Linked DNA regions of Homo sapiens: all the other regions are linked to region 3. Evidence: fine-mapped expression QTL. A gene starts in region 3. Each other region holds a variant in brackets. All regions are shown on one strand. Distances are from middle to middle.

Evidence for each region.
Region 1: its variant is fine-mapped to the expression of DENND6B in whole blood (TOPMed, PIP above 0.99).
Region 2: its variant is fine-mapped to the expression of DENND6B in blood mononuclear cells (TOPMed, PIP above 0.99).
Region 4: its variant is fine-mapped to the expression of DENND6B in whole blood (TOPMed, PIP above 0.99).

The regions. Positions count from the first base shown.
Region 1 is chr22:50,368,320-50,373,461 of GRCh38, forward strand. It overlaps PPP6R2 (protein phosphatase 6 regulatory subunit 2), which reads left to right. Exons shown (of 24, transcript NM_001242898.2): 2 at 3,701-3,831. It also overlaps the pseudogene RN7SL500P. Among named protein-coding and RNA genes, the nearest start is that of PPP6R2, 28 kb to the left of the region's middle. The variant G/A (reference allele first, on the strand shown) is at 2,248.
Region 2 is chr22:50,297,570-50,302,711 of GRCh38, forward strand. All of the region lies in intron 1 of PLXNB2 (plexin B2), which reads right to left. Among named protein-coding and RNA genes, the nearest start is that of PLXNB2, 7.5 kb to the right of the region's middle. RefSeq lists enhancers at 2,871-3,427, 3,428-3,984 and a silencer at 4,122-4,171. The variant A/G (reference allele first, on the strand shown) is at 2,436.
Region 3 is chr22:50,324,659-50,329,800 of GRCh38, forward strand. It overlaps DENND6B (DENN domain containing 6B), which reads right to left and starts at 2,354. Exons shown (of 20, transcript NM_001001794.4): 1 at 2,154-2,354. The coding sequence starts at 2,330. RefSeq lists a silencer at 2,103-2,742.
Region 4 is chr22:50,284,475-50,289,616 of GRCh38, forward strand. It overlaps PLXNB2 (plexin B2), which reads right to left. Exons shown (of 37, transcript NM_012401.4): 3 at 5,043-5,142; 4 at 4,486-4,668; 5 at 4,269-4,397; 6 at 3,463-3,563; 7 at 3,193-3,319; 8 at 2,637-2,790; 9 at 1,699-1,813; 10 at 1,516-1,624; 11 at 1,326-1,427; 12 at 99-191. Among named protein-coding and RNA genes, the nearest start is that of MAPK11, 17 kb to the left of the region's middle. The variant G/A (reference allele first, on the strand shown) is at 1,994.

The sequences.
Region 1 (5,142 bases), 44 kb after region 3:
GCTAAGTAACGGGTGCCTTCTCAGGCACTGGCGCTACCACTAGACCAAGGAGTCCTTTAGTGGCCCTGTCTGGGCGTGACAGAAGGCTCACACTCTTGTCTTCTGGTCACTTCTCACCATGTCCCTTCAGCTCCTATCTCTGTATGGCCTGGTTTTTCCTAGGTTATAATTGTAGAACAAAGATTATTATAATATTGGAATAAAGAGTAATGCTACAAACTAATGATTAATAATATTCACATATATCTATAATCTATTTCTAGTATAACTATTCTTACTTTATATATTTTATTTATTATACTGGAACAGCTCGTGCCCTCAGTCTCTTGCCTTGGCACCTGGGTAGCTTGCCGCCCACAATACAAGGTCTCACTTTGTCACCCAGGCTGGAGTGCAGTGGTGTGATCATAGCTCACCACAACCATGCACACTTAGGCCGAAGGGATCCTCCCACTTCAATCCTGAGTAGCTGGGACTGCAGGCGTGCACCACCACACCTGGCTAATGCTGGTGCTGTTTAGGGACACACACATTCTTCCTCCAGCTCACACTGAGTAGAATTTGTTAAGAAGATGCATGCTACAAAATCATTGACTCAAGATTAGAATAAACAGGCCCAAGATCAAAAACATTTCTTGGCCGGGTGCAGTGGCTCACGCCTGTAATCCCAGCACTTTGGGAGGCCGAGGTGGGCGGATCAGCTGAGGTTGGGAGTTCACGACCAGCCTGACCAACATGGAGAAACCCTGTCTCTACTAAAAATACAAAATTAGCTGGGTGTGGTGGTGCGTGCCTGCAATCCCAGCTACTTGGGAGGCTGAGGCAGGAGAATCGCTTGAACCTAGGAGGCGGAGGTTGTGGTGAGCCGAGATCACGCCATTGCACTCCAGCCTGGGCAACAAGAGTGAAATTCCATCTAAAAAAAAAAAAAGAAAACACATTTCTTTATTTTGAAAACTGTATAAAGTTTTAGAAAAGTGGGCTGAAAGCCTATTTTGAGTTATTTAGCTTAATTTTAATCATGAAGTGTTAGGTATAAAAAGTATTACCTGTTTTAGAAGGTGGTAACACTGACTTATCCCTGGGCTACTGGCACCACTTTGAGTATCTTTTTTGTTTGATTTTTATTTTTTATTTTTTTAGAGATGGGGTCTCACTCTGTTACCCAAGCTGCAGTACAGTAGTGTGATTGTGGCTCACTGCAGCCTTTTATTTTATTTTATTTTTTGAGACAGAGTCTCACTCTGTTGCCCAGGCTGGAGTGGCTCACTGCAACCTCTGCCTCCAGGGTTCAAGCAATTCTCTTGCCTCAGCCTCCTGAGTATCTGGGATTAGAGGCGTACGCCCGGCTAATTTTTTGTGTTTTTAGTAGAGGCAGGGTTTCACCATGTTGGCCAGGCTGGTCTTGAACTCCTGACCTCAAGTGATCACCCACCTCGGCCTCCCAAAGTGCTGGGATTACAGGTGTGAGCCACCGCGCCTGACCTTTCACTGCAGCCTCGAACTCCTGTGCTCAAGCAGTCCTCCCACTCAGCCTCCCAAGTATCTGGGACCACAGGTGTGTGCCACCACACCCAGCTAAGTAATTTTTTTTTTTTTTTTTTTTTTAAGTAGAGGCAAGGTCTCGCTGTGTTGCTCAGGCTGGTCTTAAACTCCAGCACTTAAGTGATCCTCCTGCCTTGGCTTCCCAAAGTGCTGGGATTACAGATGTGAGCCACCACATCCCACCTTTTTGATTTGTATATAAAATGTAAAAATATGCAAAAGTAGAGAAAACATAATTAACATCTATGTACCCATCACCTAACTTCGACAGTGATCGACACTTTTTTTTTATTTTGAAAGATCTGATTTTATTTTCTGAATCAAAAGTAAGTGTATTCATGTTAAATTTAGAATGTTTTAGCTTTCCATTGATCTTTCAAGATGCTTTCCAAATACTAACAGTGCACAGAACTATGTGCCACGTCTTGTTTGTTTGTTTTTGAGATGGAGTCTTGCACTGTCACCAGGGCTGGAGTGCAATGGCGCGATCTCGGCTCACTGCAACCTCTGCCTCCCAGGTTCAAGCAATTCTCCTGCCTCAGCCTCCCGAGGAGATGGGATTACAGGCGCCTGCCACCACGCCCAGCTAATTTTTTGTGTTTTTAGTAGAGATGGGGTTTCACTATGTTGGCCAGACTGGTCTCGAATGCCTGACCTCGTGATCCACCCGCCTTGGCCTCCCAAAGTGCTGGGATTACAGGC[G/A]TGAGCCACCACGCCTGGCCACGCTATGTTTTAAAGAAAAAAGTTTAAAAGTAGGACCTATTTCTTTTTTTCTTTTCATTTTTTTGAGACGGAGTCTCACTCTGTTGCCCAGGCTGGAGTGCAGTGGCGTGATCTCGGCTCACTGCAACCTCTGCCTCCCGGGTTCAAGTGATTCTCCTGCCTCAGCCTCCCGAGTAGCTGGGATTACAGGCGCCTGCCATTGTGCCTCGCTAGTTTTTGTATTTTTAGTAGAGACGGGGTTTCACCATGTTGGCCAGGCTAATCTTGAACTCCTGACCTCATGATCCACCCGCCTCGGCCTCCCAAAGTGTTGGGATTATAGGCGTGAGCCACTGCCCCCAGCCACAAATGTAGGACCTATTTCTAAGAAACCCTTTGTAGAGGTCAGGGTATTGGGAATCCTAATTTAAAAATATTTTTAATCATTATTGGAAATTTAAGTGACAGTGGGTTCAAGAGCTAAACGTCAGACCTTTTTTAAAACAAATTTTATTTTCTGAAGGACTTCATACCTGACAACGCCAATTAAACATAATACTCCACCCATCCTACAAATTATTAAATACATTATTTCACCTGGGACTAGGATAATTATAAAATGGAATTTTAAAGTTGTAATATAGCCAGGCACAGTGGTTTGTGCTTGTAATTCCTGCTACTCAGCAGGCTGTGGCAGGAGGATCACTTGAGGGCTGTAATGTGCTGTGTGAACTGGGTGTCTGCACTAAGTTCGGCATCAGTATGGTGACCTCCCAGAAAAGGAAGACTGCCAGGTTGCCTAAGGAGGTGTGAACCAGCTGAGGTTGGAAATGGAGCACATCAGAAACTCCCATGCTGGTTAGTAGTGGGACTGGAGCTGTGAATAGCTACTGCTCTCCACCCTGGGCAGCATAGTGAGACCCCATCTCTTTAAAAAAGAAAAAAAAAAGAAAACTATCTTAAAATATCATTTTAACTGTCATGTTTGCTAGTTGAATTATGAAATCAAAGACAAATTTTATATTTAAGGGACAGATAATAAATGCTGTTCCATTGCTTTATTTTTAAAATTTTGTAATTGCTTTTTTTTGAGATGGGGTCAGTCTCTGGTCACCCAGGCTGGAGTGCAGTGGCATGATCTCAGCTCACTGCAACCTCTGCCTCCCAGGCTCCAGTGATCCCGCCTCAGCCTCCCGAGTAGCTGGGACTACAGGCATGCGCCACCACACCCGGCTAATTTTTGTATTTTTTGGTAGAAATGAGGTTTTTCCATGTCACCCAAGCTAGTCTTAAACTCTTGGACTCAAGTGATCTGCCGCCTTGGCCTCCCATTCTGTGGGGATTAAAGGTGTGAGCCACCGCACCCTGCCTCCTTTTCCTGTTGTCTGCCATTTTGATAAGTTAACTTTACCGAGGAAGAACTTAAAGCAAGATTTTTCCTCTTATTTTTCAGGTAAAGAGATTATAAATCTTCCACTGAATGAAAAAAATTTTCTTAAAGCTGCATATACTCCAAGAAAAAAACCACAAATGTTTTTCTGTTTTGCCTGAATACATGATTTAAACAAGAGATTTCCACAGAAGGTAAGATAAGTTTCTTTTTCAATTTGATTCTGTTTTATTGTGTAATTTATGTAAAAGTTCTGTACAGGTGGAAGTTCAAAGATGGGTCACAGCGAAAAACGTAGTTTAGAAGATATGCTGGCTGGGCACTGTGGCTCACACCTGTAATCTCAGCACTTTGGGAGGCCGAGGTGGGTGGATCATGAGATCAGGAGTTCGAGACCAGCCTGACCAACATGATGAAACCCGTCTCTACTGAAAATACAAAAATTAGCTGGGCATAGTGGTGTGTACCTGTAATCCCAGCTACTCAGGAGGCTGAGGCAGGAGAATCGCTTGAATCCAGGAGATGGAGGTTGCAGTGAGCCGAGATCGTGTCACTGTACTCCAGTCTGGGCGACAGAGCAAGACTCTGTTTCAAAACAAAACAAAACAAAACAAAAAAACAGATGTGCTCATGGTCTGTTGTCTTTTGGTGGTTTTTGATCCTCCTGTGTCTGGTTTTGAGATGCTCTGCATGTTTTTGAGCAAGTTGCTTGGTCTTTCCAAGCCCAAGTTTAATTCTTCTTTTTTTTTTGAGACGGAGTCTTGCTCTGTTGCCCAGGCTGGAGTGCAGTGGTGTGATCTCGGCTCACTGCAACCTCCACCTCCCGGGATCAAGCGATTCTTCTTCCTCAGCCTCCCAAGTAGCTGGGACTACAGGCACGCACCACCACACCTGGCTAATTTTTGTATTTGTAGTAGAGACGGGGTTTCACCATATTGACCAGGGTGGTCTCGAACTCCTGACCTTGTGATCCGCCCGCCTCGGCCTCCCAAAGTGCTGGGATAGCAGGCGTGAGCCACCGCGCCCTGTCCAAAGTTTAATTCTGACAAAACAGGAACAGTTTTGCACATATTTAATGAGGTATATGTTCCGTCTCACTTGCAGGGAACATGTGAGATACAGCATATACACTGTCACAGTTGCCATTCAAACCACACAGTTACGCAGAAAATGAAAAGGGGAGGGAAGGACCTCTGCTTCCAGCAATATAAGATACTCTTACGAGGCTCTTCCATTGCAGTTCAGTGAGATGCTGGATAAATTAGAATAAATATAATTTCTTTCTTTTTTTTTTTTTTTTTTTGAGACAGAGTCTTGCTCAGTCGCCCAGGCTGGAGTGCAGTGGCGCGATCTCGGCTCACTGCAAGCTCCACCTCCTGGGTTCATGCCATTCTCCTGCCTCAGCCTCCCGAGTAGCTGGGACTACAGGCACCCGCCAGCACGCCCGGCTAATTTTTTTTGTATTTGTAGTAGAGACGGCATTTCACCATGTTAGCCAGGATGGT
Region 2 (5,142 bases), 27 kb before region 3:
CCCACCTCCATCCATCTTGCCCTCAACACTGAGCCAGGCTCCATCTCCTGCTCACAAGATTCCCGCTTAGCTACCCCAGAAAAAGGAGTTTCTTCCTTAGGTGGCTGTGGTCACACCTGACGCTGCTGCACCCAGGGACCTCGAGGCCTGAAGTCCAGAGCCAGACCAGTGAGTTCACACCCCAGCTCTGTCACGTTCTAGCTGGCTCATGTGGGCCATTCAGAAAGCTGCTCTGTGCCTCAGTTTCCCCATATGTAACCTGGGGGTCATTATGGCGCCCACCTCAGAGGGCTGCCTTGAGGTTGAGTGGGTGTGGAAATCTTTACAGCTGTGCCCACTCAGAGAACGCTGCCTCACGACATTCCCACGTCCATGTTCACTGTGCTCCCTGGAAAGCCCCTGCCCATCCTTTAGACCCCGAGACACCCTCCCTAACCCAGCCCCTGAGGGACTGGCCTTGCTCTGTGGTCTATGGTCTTCCCCGACAGGCCCCGGCTGCCCCGCCGCCCTGCCCCAACAAGTCCAAACACTGGATCTGGTCACTGGGCACCTGCCGGTCCAAACTCAGTGAGCCGGGAAGGGGTGGTGACATGCAGGGGCGCGAGCCCAGAAGACCTGTCCCCGCAGGTCACCCCCAGGCCAACAGAGCAGAAGGGTCTCCTCCCCCAACCAGAACTCCGATGTAGGCCAAGGGCAGCACAGGGATGCTGGGCCTCCCCTCTACAACCTAGACAGCCTGGGAGGCAGCAGGAGCTGCTTGCTGGCTGGGCACCTGTGGCCCTCTCCTGAGGTCCCTTTTGTTTTTTTTTTCTGACCAGCAGCCCCCAGGCCCCTTGCACGGGCTGAGTCTGGCCCCCGCCCCTCCCACTGGGTAAAGGTAAACAAGAGGCATGTAAGGGGGAAGGACAGAGCCCTACTCCAGATGAGGCCAAGAGTGGGGGCTGCCAGGCCCCCAAACTCCTGCCAGCCTTGGTTCTGAGACCGCCCCAAGTCTTGGCTGCACTGCGGGGTGGTTCCAGTGGGGACTAAAATTGGGAGTTCTCTGCCTTTCAGTATTTTCAAGCAAACAGACTGGGCCATTCTTTTCTTTTTTCTGAGACAGGTCTCACTCTGTCACCCAGGCTGGAGTGTAGGGGCATGATCTTGGCTCACTGCAACCCCTGCCTCCCAGGTTGAAGCAATTATCCTGCCTCAGCCTCTCCAGTAGCTGGGACTACAGGTGCACGCCACTATGCCCAGCTAATTTTCTGTATTTCAGTAGAGATGGGGCTTCACCGTGTTGCCCAGACCGGTTTCGAACTCCTGAGCTCAGGCAATCCACCCGCCTTGGCCTCCCAAAGTGCTGGAATTACAGGCGTGAGCCACCACACCCAGCCAGACTGACCATTCTTAATGCTAAAATCAAACCAGCACAAAGCAGTCAGGCCCAGTGGGAGGGCAGGCCCAGCTTGGGGGCTGCTCTTGGCCAGGCCAGGCTGTGGGCTCTGGCACGGGAACCAGAGAGGGCAGGGGCCAGAGGAGGTGCATGGGCAGCGGCCCGGCAGGGGCCAAGATGGGGATCCAGGCAGCAGCCGCCATGAAGAACGAGGAGAGCTCGGGCCTAGGCCTGGGAGGGCAGGAGGGGGTGGCATGAGCACCTAGGACATGGGCGGTGGAGAAGGCAGAGGTCCTAGGGCTGTGCGGCCCTCCAGGGCTCAAAGGATTGGGGTGGACACAGGCCCTGCGTGGGGTGGGGGGGGGGCCCGGTGCGGGGGCGGGGGAAGCAGCCTCGGACCAAGTGAGCGATAGGCTGCCCCAAGCACAGGCCAAGGCGCGTCTGAGAGTGGCTGTCCCGGAACGGGGCGACAGGCGTCACAGAAAAGCCACGGAGGCCCCGGAGGCCCCGCAGCCAGCAGCCAGGGGGCCGGGCCAAAGCTAGCGACACACGCAAATCTGCAATTATCCCAGAGCGCTAAACACATCAGAGGAAACAAAACAGACGCGCCGGCGAATCCCAGCCTCCGCTGTTTTCAAAACAAGCGCGAGGGGGGTGCCGCGGGGCGTGGGGCTGGGGGGTCGGCAAGGACCCCGGCCGCCCCTTCCCGCAGCGCCGCGCCCGTGGGTAGGCGCGGGGAGGGACTGGGTGGAGAGCGCGCGGGAGACCCGGCGAGGGCGAGACCGGCGGCCCCGCCACCCAGCCCCACCCACCGGTGACCCGGGTCAGAGTTCAGCCCGGGAGGCGGGGGGCGGTGTCTCCTGGGTGGGTCTGCGAGCCCGGTACCCGGCCAGAGCCAAAGGCGGGCACCCGGCCTGTGTGGAGCGCCCTGGACTATTCCTCGCAGGCCGACCCAGGTGGCACAGCCCCTCCCCCGGCGCCGGCACCGCCAGACTCCCCGGAGGGCGCAGAACGGTTGCCCGGGAGCCAGGGGCAAAGCGCGCCCGGGGCCAGGAAGCGC[A/G]GGGACTAGGCCCGCGCCTCCTCGGCGCCGCCCACTGCCCCCCGCGAGCCCAAGCTCCACGGCCACCGCCCGCGCCCTCCCGGGGACTCCGGCGCCCCGTCCGCCCCTCGGCCTCGCGCACCTGGAGGGAGCACGTGGCCGCCTCTGGGACAAACCTCACCAGGCCGGGGGCCCAGGACGCGCGGGCGGGTGGGAGTCTGACCCGAGTAACAATGACGGCGGCGGCGACAGTCACACGAGCGCAGGAGACGTCGTCCCCGCGGGGCGCTCACCTGGCGTCGGGCACATCGGATCGCACAGCCGGCCATTACCTAAGTCCTCCGAGCCGTGGAAGGGGCGCGGGGAGCAGCTCCGCCCCGCCGATGGTGGCTCCGCCCGTGCCCCCGGTCGGTCTCAGGGCTCGGCCCCTCCCGGCCCAGCTGCCAATCATGCACGACCCTGCCCGGAGCAGCCTCCCGCAGGACTCCGGACCCAGGGTCAAGGCCAGACTCACCCGAGGCAAAGGCCGAACGCTCCCGGCACAACCCGACCTAGGAGCTGGGGCGGGGCGGGGCGGGGCGGGGCTCCAGGGACAGACTGATGTGGAGGCCTGAGCCTCGCTTCAGCGTCTACAGCGGTCCCCGCTGGACTCTCGGCTGAGGACCCCTCCCAGGTGGAGGCCGTCGCACCCCTTCCCCGCCAGCCTGGTTTCAGGGTGGGGTTCCTACTTAGGGCCAGCCTCCCCTGCAGTCTGGGCTCTGGGTCCCAGCAGGAAAAGTCACCCTGGCTGGTGGCAGTGATGGGGTCACCAGCCCAGGATCCTGGGGGTGCCCCATGAAGCCCCAGCTCCTCCTGTCACTTGCTCCAGCCGAGTTAGTCACAGCCCCCACTGGTCCACACCTCCTGACACACCCAGGCCACCTGGTACCCAGGGCCTCTGTATCTAGCCCTGGCCCTCAGGCACCCCCTGAGCTCACCTGGCCATGCCCAAGGGGCCTGCCCCAGCCCCCTCTCCGCCTCTGCACCAAGTGCAGCCCCTGTATATGGTGCGTCCCTAGACTGGGGCCCCAGGCTGCCCTCCCATCCTACACACAGTTGTGAGGCCCTCCTCAGCCTCCTCTCTGGCCACGGCCCACTGGCGCATCTGGAGGATGGTCCTCCCCAGCCCTCAGACAGAAGGTGGGATCCAGTTGGCTACGGCGCCCTGTCCCCACACGCACCAGGCCTGCAGAACCACCTCTCTCCTCAACCACCCCTTTCGGGGTCCCAGACCCCATCCTGTCCAACCTGGGCACAGCTGCAGCCCCCTCTTGCTACACCGTGGTCCTTCGGGTCAGAAAGCTGGGCAGCGCAATGAACCTACCGATGTCTCCGTGCTTCCTGAGGACCTCCTGTGGGAGGGGTGGGCACCGCCAGGCGCTCGGGGCACACGAGGCCGATGGCTACAGCAGGAACCACCAACTCATCAGGACAGGACATGCGGTCAGACAGCAGGCGGCCACGGAGGGACTCTCGTGGGATTCTGGGGCTCAGTCACTTGGAGTCTCTCCTGAAAGGAGGCCTCCCGGCCCGCCGGTGCCCAGCCCCACCTGCAGGCTCTCCTCTGAGTGGCCCCCACGCATCTCCCCCTTTCCAGCTCAACCCCGCAGCAGCCGGCTGCTCAGAGACCAGGTCCTGCCTGGATGCAGCTGGCTCAAGACCAGCCCCCGCCCACAGCCCCCTTCTCACCCCCGGGGTGGGCGTTGGGGGGTGGACGGGTGAGGCCCCAGCCAGTGAGCAGTAAGCAAGGCCTGTAATCTCCCCGTCAGCCTGTCAGCGCCTCAGCGGTCACCCCAGCCCCGCCTCGCCCATCACCGCTGAACCCCACAATTAGCTTGGGGCACCGCGCCAAGCCTGTGTGCCAGACACCACTTGCACACATGACCACACATGTGCAGACACACATGGCTGGGTGCTGCCGGAAAAGCCCTGCCAACAGGGTCTCACCCCAACACCCAGAACTCGTCCCCAGTACAAAGAGCCTGGGAGAGAAGCCTCAGGCCGGGGCACTTGGGCTAAGAGGGGCAGTGGGGCTCTCAGAACCCAGCGCTGCCTGGAGCCCCGAGGGAGGGGCCATGTGTGGCATGGGGAAGTGGGGTGGGGGCAGGGCCGTCTCAGCAGGGGAGAGGGGCTGCGTCTGCCCAGGATGAGCTGGGGGCTGGTGAGGCACAGGGTGTTGGGCAGGACCTGGGTCCAGGCCAAGGGTGAGGCAGCCCAGGGTGTGGGCTGGGCCCCACAGGGGCAAACACTCAGGGCTTTGGGAGGCCAGAGGGACAGGGATTTCCCAGTGAGGAAATGCCCATCTCAGAGTGGGGGCAGGACAGTGAGTGGGAGGTGATGCCCGTGGCTGGAGCTGTGTGGGGAGGTGGGTGCCCCTGGAGGCCAGGTCCAGCCCCTTGCTCCACGCGGAGGCTTGCTCTGCTCATGGTGGAGCTGAGGACTTCAAACCCCACAGGGCCTGGTCGAGAGCCACTGGGCCCCAGGTCTAGATGTGGAACTGGGGGACCCTCCAGCGAGCTTTGCTGGGCCTGGGCGGCCTGCCTGGGGCGCCCCACCTTCACGCCCTCCTCCCTAACATCCTTTTCTCCTGAAGTCCCTCAGGGTGGTCACCAGATCAGGCTCGGTGCCAACATAGGAGTGGGGAGGCCAAGCCCCTCAGCTCCCCTGGCCAATCTCTGAGGCTGAGAGG
Region 3 (5,142 bases):
GGTGATCTGTCCGCCTCGGCCTCCCAAAGTGCTAGGATTACAGGCGTGAGCCACCATGCCCAGCCTTCAAAGTGATTTACTGAATGAGTAACTGAATCACCAGCTCCTTGCCTTTTGCTTATGTTGGCATTTTGGGAGAGGGGTTACCTGAAACAGGACCCCCTCCCCTGTCTCTTCTCAGCATCCAAGACTTATTTACCTAAGCCCATTCCTTCCTCTGAGCTGCATGCATCCCAACTAGAGTCTTCCTTCCATATCGCAGAACCAAGCACAGTCCTGGGGCTTTGCAGTGCTTAGCTGGGCTGAGCTGTGACTGAGTTGCACAGTGGGTGCTCCCTAAGTCTGTAAGTGACTAAAACGACCTCGATCTTCCCTGTGACTTCCAGGTGAGGGAGGAAAGGCAAGAGTCATGTGCTCAGGCCCCGGTGGATCCACTGCCAGGTTTCTGCACAGACTCAGTGATCTGCAGGTGCCCAGATCATTGCTATGGAGGGTTTCGCTCATGGACCTGGGTCCCCAACACTCTGCCAGCTGACCATGCCCCTAGTCCGAGCTGAGCATCCCCAGCAAAAGCTCAGGAGTCCAAGCACACACAGCCTTCAACAGCTCAGAAATAACTTTCCGAATGGGTTTTAGAAAATAACACGAGAATGTCTTAAGGAACAGAGGAACCTCCTTTTTTTTTTTTTTTTTTTTTGAGATGGAGTCTCACTTTGTCGCCCAAGCTGGAGCGCAATGGTGCAATCTCTGCTCACTGCAACCTCCCCCTCCCGGGTTCAAGCCATTCTCCTCCTCAGTCTCCCGAGTAGCTAGGACTACAGGAGTGTGCCACCTCGCCCGGCTAATTTCTGTATTTTTAGTGGAGATGTGGTTTCACCATGTTGGCCAGGATGGTCTCAAACTGCTGACCTTGTGATCTGCCTGCCTCGGCCTCTCAAAGTGCTGGGATTACAGGCATGAGTCACCGCGTCCGGCCAGGAACCTCTTAACTTCTTTTGTGATTTTGTGGGGAACAATCTGGGCAACAGTATTGAACTAAGAAAGGTTTTCAACCCTGGGCAGGTCACCACACTTCTTGGTACTCAGCCCCCACCCAGTGATGCTGTTTGAGGCTGTGCACCTGCTGGGGACCGTGTGTGGTGGGAGGGGCTCCAGAGAGTGCTAGAGTTAATGCTTTTCTGTTTAGAAGACTATATGCTTCTCATGGCCTCTTGGAGTTCAGCAGGGCCTTAGAAAGCATCTCCCAACCACAGAGACGCGCTGCCTGGCTTTCCTGATGATGATGATTTGGCCTGATCTTGGACACCTGCGGTAATAGAGAGCTCACTACCCCTCACGAGGTTCCTTGCGCCAGCGCGGGGAAGCCTCCCTCCATCTGCAGGTGGGCCTCCCCTGTGCTGGTCAGCTCCCTGGTGTGTGTTACACAGGACACAGAGAAGATCATCCTGCGGGGCCTCCCTGGAGGAAAGGAGGCTGCCTGTGTGGGTAGGTGAGTGGAGGCCTGCAGGCAGCAGAAAGACCACATCGAAAGCCCATGGGCACAGCCGATGAACAGACCCCCACGAGCAAGAACACCACAAGACGCAGGTGGAGGGACGGGGCCCATGGGGTCTGGATCTGATGCTAGGTGAACAAGGAGGCGCTGCAGGGTTTTAAGCAGGAGAGCCACAAAGGTTGAACTCTGGGGTGCAGCTGGGGTGGGGATGACATCAGTGATGGCAGCAAAGGAACGGATCCGAGACCTTTGTTGCAGAAGGAGCCGTCAGCCTCGCCTATGCCCAGAGATGGGATGCGGAGCGGAGGGTAAGCCCGGGACTCTGGCGGGAGCCACTGAGGGGATGAAGGTGTCACTGCTCCGGTGGGGAATGGAGGGGGGAGATGTGAGACATTTACTGGGAAAAATCGAAAGAGTACCACTTAGGTTATGCAAAATGCTCCATCCCAATGTGAAGACAAGATCCGACTCCGAGCAGCTCGCCTTCCCTCCTCGGCCTGGGGAGCGCTTCTGGAGCCCGGAGAAGAGGCCCCTCCAGGAGGCGGCGGCCGAAGGCCAGGGAGAGTGCGGGGCGGCCGAGGGCCCCAAGCGAGGCGGGACTGGCCCCGAGAGGCGCAGCCCTGCCCACCCGCCCGCGCCCGCGCTCGCGCCCGCTCACCTCCAGCGCCTGGCCCAGCTCCAGGTCGAAGGTGACCACGCACACACACTCCAGCCAGGCGGAGAAGCGCGCCCAGGGCGCCGCCGGGGTCCGCGCCGCGCGACCTGAAGACGTGGGTCCAGCCGCGCCCAGGCAGCCGCGAGCCCGGCGAGGCCCTGTGCCCAACAGCGCGTCCATGGCGGCGGCCGCGGGTTGCCGGGGAAACGCGGGCGGGGGCGGCGCGCGTCCGGGCCGCTCCTCAGAACAGTCGAGCGGCCGCCGCGGCCCAGTGCGGCTCCCGCGCGGCCGCGCGCCCCCTAGCGCCCGAGAAGCGCCAGCGGCCGGGCGCCGCCCAGGGCACCAGCGAGCCGGACGCGCGCGGGCCAGAGCGGCCGGAGCCCACTGGGGGACTTCCGGGGAAGCGGCCGAACTGGGGCCTTCCAGGGTCCACGCCGTCTGAGGCCCGAGAGAGTCGGTTCGGCCCCGGTGTTCGCGGATCCCGGCTCGCGGGAGCCTCGGGGCCAGGCCAGGGAGGCAGAGCAAGCTGCAGCCAGCCGGCGCCGGGCTCGTCGGGCTTCGCAGGTCCGGCCAGCCTACCTCGCCCCACCGCGCAGGGGCCAGCGGCGTCGCGGGCGTTTTCGTGGCGGAATGGCGTCCTCACTGAGCGCCCAGCCACCACCGCGGACTCGCGCTCGCTTCCTCTGGGGCCCGCGCGGCCTGGGGTCGTGTCTGACCGCGGGTGTCCACGCAACACCTCTGCAGTTTCACTTTCCGGGGGAATCGCGGGGACCTGGAGCGAACTCTTCCCTCCCTCGCGAGGGCCCCGGGCCCCGCTGTGGTCCACAGAGCACCTTGAGGCCCGGCGTGGAAGGGCGAGTTTGGGGCTGTCGGTAACTTAATGAGGCACGCCTTTGAGTCGTGGGCCTCATGACGTTTCCGTGGAAGGCGGGCCGCATATACTGTGGTGGTCCCTTCAGATTACCACGTGTTGGCCAGACGCGGTGGCTCACGCCTGTAATCTCACCGCTTTGGGAGGCCGAGGTGGGGTGGCGGATCACGAATCCAGGAAATCGAGACCAACCTGGTGAAACCCTGTCTCTACTGAAAATACAAAAATTAGCCGGGCGTGGTGGCTGGCGAGCGCCGTAACCCCAGCTATTGGGGAGGCTGAGGCAGGAGAATCGTTTGAACCCCGGAGGCGAAGCTTGCAGTGAGCTGAGATGTCGCCATTGCACTCCAGCCTGGGCGACAGAGTGAGACTCCATCTCAAAAATAAAAAAATAAAAGATTACCACGTGTTGTTCGGATCATCTGGCCTAGGTGTGGGGTAGGCTGTCCCATCTAGGTTTGTCACATAACAAAATCGCCTAATGACACATTTCTCAGGACATAGCTTCACCGTTGAGTAGCACATGGCCGTATTGTTTTTTGTTTGTTTGTTTCTGTTGTTTTTTTTGAGACAGAATGTTGCTCTTGTTGCCCAGGCAGGAGTGCAATGGCATGGTCTTGGCTCACTGCAACCTCTGCCTACTGGGTTCGAGCGATTCTCCTGCCTCAGCCTCCCGAGTAGCTGGAATTACAGGCGTGCACCACCACGCCAGGCTAATTTCTGTATTTTTGGTAGAAACGGTTTCACCATTTTGGCCAGGCTGGTCTCGAACTCCTGAGCTCAGGTGATCTGCCCGCCTCGGCCTCCCAAAGTGTTGAGATTACAGGCGTGAGCCACTATGCCAGGCCCGACTGTATAGCTTTTATTTTTATTTTTAGAGGAAAGGTCTCACTCTCTCCCAGGATGGAGTGCAGTGGCCCATTGCAGCTCACTGCAGCCTCGATCTCCTGGCTCAAGCTATCCTGCCACTCAGTCTCCTAGGTAGCTGAGGCTACAGGCACACGCCGCCATACCCCATTATTTTTTTATTTTTATTTTTTGTTCGTTTTTGTGGAGATGGGGTCTCGTGCTGCCTGGGCTCATTTTCATTTCTCTTGGGCGTGCATAGAAACCAAATTGCTGAGGCATAACCTGGGTATATGTTTAGCTTTCCCCAAAGCAGCCATACATTTAAAAACATTCCTACCAGGCCAGGCGAGGTGGCTCATGCCTGTAATCCCAGCACTTTGGGAGGCTGAGGCTAGTGGATCACCTGAGGTCAGGAGTTTGAGACCAACCTGGCCGACATGGTGAAAACCTGTCTCTACTAAAAAATACAAAAATTAGCCAGGCATGGTGGCGGTCACCTGTGATCCTAGCTACTCAGGAGGCTAAGGCATGAGATCGCTTGAACCTGGGAGGTGGAGGTTGCAGTGAGCCGAGATCAAGCCACTGCACTCCAGCCTGTGTGACAGAGCGAGACTTTGTCTCAAAAAAAGATAAAAAAAGAAAATGGAAACATTCCTACCAACAGTTTATGTTTCCTTTGCTCCACATCCTTCCCAACATTTGGTGTTGCCAAGCGTCTTCATTGTAGCCAGCCAATGAGTGGGTAGTGGTATCTTGTGATTTTTAAAATTTTGTTTATTTTATAGAGAAGAGATCTCATCCTATCACCCAGGCTGAAGTTCAGTGATGTCATCATAGCTCACTGCAGCCTGGAACTCCTGGGCTCAAGGGATCCTCCTTCATTGGCCTCCCAAGTAGCTGTAACTACAGGCATGTGCCACCGTGCCTGGGTATTCTTGTGGTTTTGATTTGCATTTCCCTGATTACTAATGGTCTTGAGCATTTTTTTCCCCTGTGGTTATTGCATGCCATCATTGTAAGATGTACTCTGATTTTGAGGTAGGAGGCAGAACTTTATTCCAGACCAGATTAAAGACTGGCTGAAGGCCGGGCGCGGTGGCTCACGCCTGTAATCCTAACACTTTGGGAGGCCGAAAAGGCGAGCAGATCAGCAGATCGAGACCATCCTGGCTAACACGGTGAAACCTCATCTCTACTAAAAGTACAGAAAATTAGCCGGGTGTGGTGGCTGGTGCCTGTAGTCTCAGCTACTCGGGAGGCTGAGGCAGGAGA
Region 4 (5,142 bases), 40 kb before region 3:
TCCCTGCTGCCCCTCCCCTCACAGTCCTGAAGGTGACCCCCCACCCCACCCGGGGCCCTGGGGTCCAGCAGCCGAGCCGGCCTGCCCTGGAGCCGTACCTTTGGGGTCCGAAAGGCGAAGGTCCCAGATTCCTGCATGGTCACCGGCTCCATGAACTTGAGCAAGTCACTGCCCACGTGCAGGGAGGAACCCTGCAGACCATGCCGTCAGGACCCTGGACAGGCGGCTGTGGCACCCTGGCCCTCCTCCCAGAACCCCTGCAGCCCCTCCTCTGTGCCTACAGTGTGGGAGCCCTCTCCTCACCCCACACATGCCCGCCCCTCAGATTACCATGCCAGCTGACCCCTCGGCCACTCCTGAGCCCAAACACCTGTGTCTGCAGAAGCCTCTGAACGTCCTCTGTGGGTTTCCCACGGCCACCTCCACCACTCATCCACACCTGAGAACATCGCCCGGCCCACCTGACATCGTGGCCCCCACAGCTCCCTCCTCAGGAGGTGGCACTGGCCCCTCAATCTCCACACGCCTGCCTCCTCCACTGCCTCTCTTCAGGCCCATCCAAAGGCCCCCGAGTGCTGCCTCCTGGCCTCTGTCCCCGATAAATCCTGTGCCCTCTACCTCATGTGGGGGCCCCGAGTCGGGGGGCACGGGTGGAGCTCAGGCTTCCCACACACCCATCAGCACTGGCCGGCACCCCTCCCTCCGTACCTTAGCCTGCCTGTCACCAACCGGCACCCCCTCCCTCCGCACCTGAGCCTGCCTGTCACCGGCCGGCACCCCTCCCTCCGCACCTGAGCCTGCCTGTCACCAACCGGCACCCCCTCCCTCCGCACCTGAGCCTGCCTGTCACCGGCCGGCACCCCTCCCTCCGCACCTGAGCCTGCCTGTCACCGGCCGGCACCCCTCCCTCCGCACCTGAGCCTGCCTGTCACCGGCCGGCACCCCCTCCCTCCGCACCTGAGCCTGCCTGTCACCAACCGGCACCCCCTCCCTCCGTACCTGAGCCTGCCTGTCACCGGCCGGCACCCCTCCCTCCGCACCTGAGCCTGCCTGTCACCGGCCGGCACCCCTCCCTCCGCACCTGAGCCTGCCTGTCACAGCCGGCACCCCTCCCTCCGCACCTGAGCCTGCCTGTCACCGGCCGGCACCCCTCCCTCCGCACCTGAGCCTGCCTGTCACAGCCGGCACCCCTCCCTCCGCACCTGAGCCTGCCTGTCACCGGCCGGCACCCCTCCCTCCGTACCTGAGCCTGCCTGTCACCGGCCGGCACCCCTCCCTCCGCACCTGAGCCTGCCTGTCACCAGCCGGCACCCCTCCCTCCGCACCTTCACGGTGTCCAGGTTCTTGCCCTGGAAGTTCACATCTGTCTCGTGGTTCATGGGGATCACCAGGGGGCTGGGTCCCAGGAACTGGGGACAGCTGTCCTCCTGGGAGAGTAAGGCTGGTCAGGTGCTGCCTGGGCACAGCGGAGCAGCCATGCCCTGAACAGTCCCCTGAGGCCCCGAGGCCCCTCACCATGTGGGCACGGACGATGCCGTCCTCAGGGTTGGGCGAAGCCTCCCGGCACTCGTGGTAGCGCAGGTCCCACTGGCAGGTCCAGCGGTTGCTCACGCAGGAGATGCACCTGCATCCAGAGGGGATCGTGAGCAGGGCTGGGGTGGACGGGCAGGGTGGGGTCGATGGGCACAAGACACTCACGGCAGGTTCTCCTCCAGGCTCATGGCCTGGCGGCAGTCGTAGAAGGGGTACTGGTAGGACGTGAGGAAGATGTTGCCTCGTCTAAGGAGGAGCTGGATGGTCACGGCCACGTGGTCTGCAGACAGCAGAGGGGGAGGTGTCAAGGTGGCGGCCGCAGGGCCGAGGGCCAGGCTGGGCCTCCCCTGGGGCTGACTCCTGGGGCCAAGGTGGAGACCCCTGGTCTTCAGGGGGCCCTGCCAGGACGCCCCGCATTCATGTTGGGCGGGGCCTGCCACCTGCTATCAGATCTCGGGTG[G/A]GGCTGCCAGGACGCCCGTTCACGCTGGGCTGGACCTGCCACCTGCTATCAGATCTTGGTTCGGGTGTCGGGCGCAGCACCGGGCTTGCCTTTCTCCCCCGGGTCCAGGTTGCTTTCATACCCTCTGTTCCCGCAGGCACTGAGGGCAGCGGCTCCTTGGAGTCTGAGTGGGACCTGCCAGGTCCCTGCCCACGTCACTGCGTGGCCCCACTGCCCCCAAAACTCAGGGGACATGGGCGCGACGCCTGCCCTGGCCCACATGCGAGGCCCTGCAGCCTCTGGGAACGGCCCTGCTCTCTGAAGCTGGACATGGCAGGAAGGGGTGAGGGGCGTCTGCCGAGACGACGGGGCCTGGCGCCTGGCACCCACATGCCGCTCCGGACGTGATGAGGGAGCAGGCTGAAGACAAGTCACCTTTGCTACAGGCCTGGGGGGCGTGGCTGCGGACAGCCCAAGAAGCCAGAACCTCCCCAACAGGCACAGCAACCCCACCACAGGCTTCATTCAGGCTGGGCCCCCGGAGCAGCCGCGGAGTGTGCCTGTGCAGAGCCTGCACCCAGGGGCCAGCAGAGGCGAGAGCCCGTGTGCACAGGGCCCCGTGCGACCGAGAAGGGCCACCCGGGGGCTCGGGAAGGGGCCTCACCCTGGCCTGGCGGTGTGACGGGGATGCTGCTTGGGGAGTTGCAGATGACGGCCTCGCCCTCCACGCGGGCGGGGTGTGGCGGCGACTCCCCAAAAAGGCACAGCAACTCGTCCTCCTCGCTCAGGGCAGGGAGGGGGCTGACGGTCAGCTGCACCTGAGGGAGGGGCCGTGCCGCTCACACTGGGAACCCCGAGTCCTGTCAGCCCACCTGCCGGTGACCCGACCTCCCTGCGTGTGTGGGCGCACGTCCCAGTGGAGCCTCCAGAACCCGACTCCACGTCTTCCAATACAGGCCTCTCTGTGGTCACCCCAGCAACTCCTGGGACAGGGCCTGAGTCCACCCTGGATATGGACAAGCCCCACCCCTGCCCGCCCAGGTCATAGGGGTCCAGGGGACCAATGGAGGGCGGGCTCCATCCCTAAGGCTCGGTGCCCAGAGCCCAGGCGGGGGAGATGTGGAGCCCTCCCCTGCCTGTCCCAACAGCTCCCAGCATGGGGGAGCCCCCACCTGGCCCGGCCTGGGGCCCAGGACCCCCACCCCAGACCCACCACGCACCTCCCCCTGGGCCCGCCGGCTCATGTTCTGTGGCTGGGCGCTGGTGACGGCCACGCAGGACTTGCTTCGGCTCCACAGCCAGTGGCTGGCCTCCTCGGCCCGCGGACACTCGGCCTTCCGGGTGCATCTGCAGGCGCAGGGGGCGGCCTCAGCCCAGGGTGGAGTCTTGTTCTCCCGGGACAGGACAGTGCGATGTGCCCCCCGACCCAGGCCACGACCTTCCGGGATCCCAGAGGCAGGCCGTGTCCCCGAGCCACCCCAGGCACTCACCGTCCCTCGACGACGCACCAGCCGCAGTAGGGGTCCTGGGAGTCGCGGCACTGGGTGCAGGTCGGGTAGCTCAGGCACTCCTGCACCGGCAGCCGGAACACCTAGGGCAGCGGGGCCGTGAGTGGGACCACAGCAGAGGCCGCACGGGCCTTCCGCAGACCCCAGATGTCCCCAGACCGCCAGCTTGACCCAGCTCTGTCCCGGGGCCTCGGGAGCCTCAGACACCTCAGGCTTGATATTAAACAGTTCTGGCTCTGGGTGGCCATGCCTGGCCCAGGATCCCGATGGGAGCCCAGGGAAGCCTGGAGGTCTTGGCTATGGTGTCTCCCGGGGCAGCTCCTGTCCTCTACACTGGCTCCCTCCGAGGGGTGCTCCTAGGGCTGGCCTGAGGGTCTCTGGCACTAACCCCCCACAAGCTTGGGGCCCAGGCCCATGTTCTCCACTGACTGAGCTCACATGGGCTGTGCAGGGACCCCGTCTTCCCATCCACCCTCAGCAACACGCCTCAGACACCAACCCAGGTCCCTTCCATCAGGACAGGGCAGAGGCGGGGCCAGAGGGAGAGACATGGTTGAGACCACAAAGGACAAACAGAAGGAGCGGCAGAGACGGGGCAGTGCTAGAGAGACACAGGATGGAGGCACTGCCCGGGACCCACCCAGCCACCCCTCATCCAGACCAAGGAGAAGGGCCCAGCTCTGCAGCACCCCATCCTCCTCTGGCCCCCAGGCCTGTCCTAAGGGCCTGGGATGCAATGACCGGGCACACTTGGCCTAGAGTGCTCTCCGGGGCTGCGTCTGGCTCACCTTGTCCTGGGTCATGGCGTACAGGCTGCCCAGGTCTCCAGACAGTACCAGGTCGCGCTTGACTCTCTTGTTTATCTCCACAAGGATAGAGTCGTACTCTGAGGAGGTGCCATCTGGGGTGAGGTACACCTGTGTGCGCGAGGGCAGGCCGGTGAGGGTACGGGCCTTGTGCACAGACGGGCCCTCCAGAGCCTCCCCGCCCCAGCCTGGGCCAAACCTTGAGGATCCGGCCATCAGAGGTGCCCAGAAAAGCAACAGTGTGGTTGTTCTCGGCGGCGACCGTCACGGCCGTGAGGTTCAGGCCTCCACGCTGCAGCACGGCTGTGCCTCTGAGCCCGTCGCGGCTGCCCAGCGGGTAGGGCAGGTGCTCCGAGCCACATGGGAAGCTCTTGCTGGAGCCCTGCGGACCACAGCGTGTCAATGGCAGGCAGACCCCCTGTCCTGAAGGGCCCTCTCCACTCGCGCTCCAAGACTCGGGACAGGCCCTTCCCTTCCCTCCGGCACACGTCCTACACACGTCCCCGAGAACAGAACCCACATGGCAGGGAGCCCCACCGTGCTCACTGTTGTGTTCCCCAGTGCCCGACACAGGCCTGGGACTGGCGCCAGCGTGAATGGCATTGAGAGATGCGGCACCCACCCACGCAAGCGCCCAGGCTGGCGAGAGCCACGGCCACACTGCTCACGTGCACCCTCCCCAGCAGGCTGGGACACGCAAACCCACGAACGGACGCCTGCAGTCCGGGCCCTGCGAGAACACACTGAGGCCCATACCGGCGCGTGGCCGCCGCACTGGATATCGCCGTGGAAGGGCTTGTAGAAGATGTCACGGGCCTCCCGGGTGCCTGTGTAACAGGCGTTGCGGTTGGCCTCC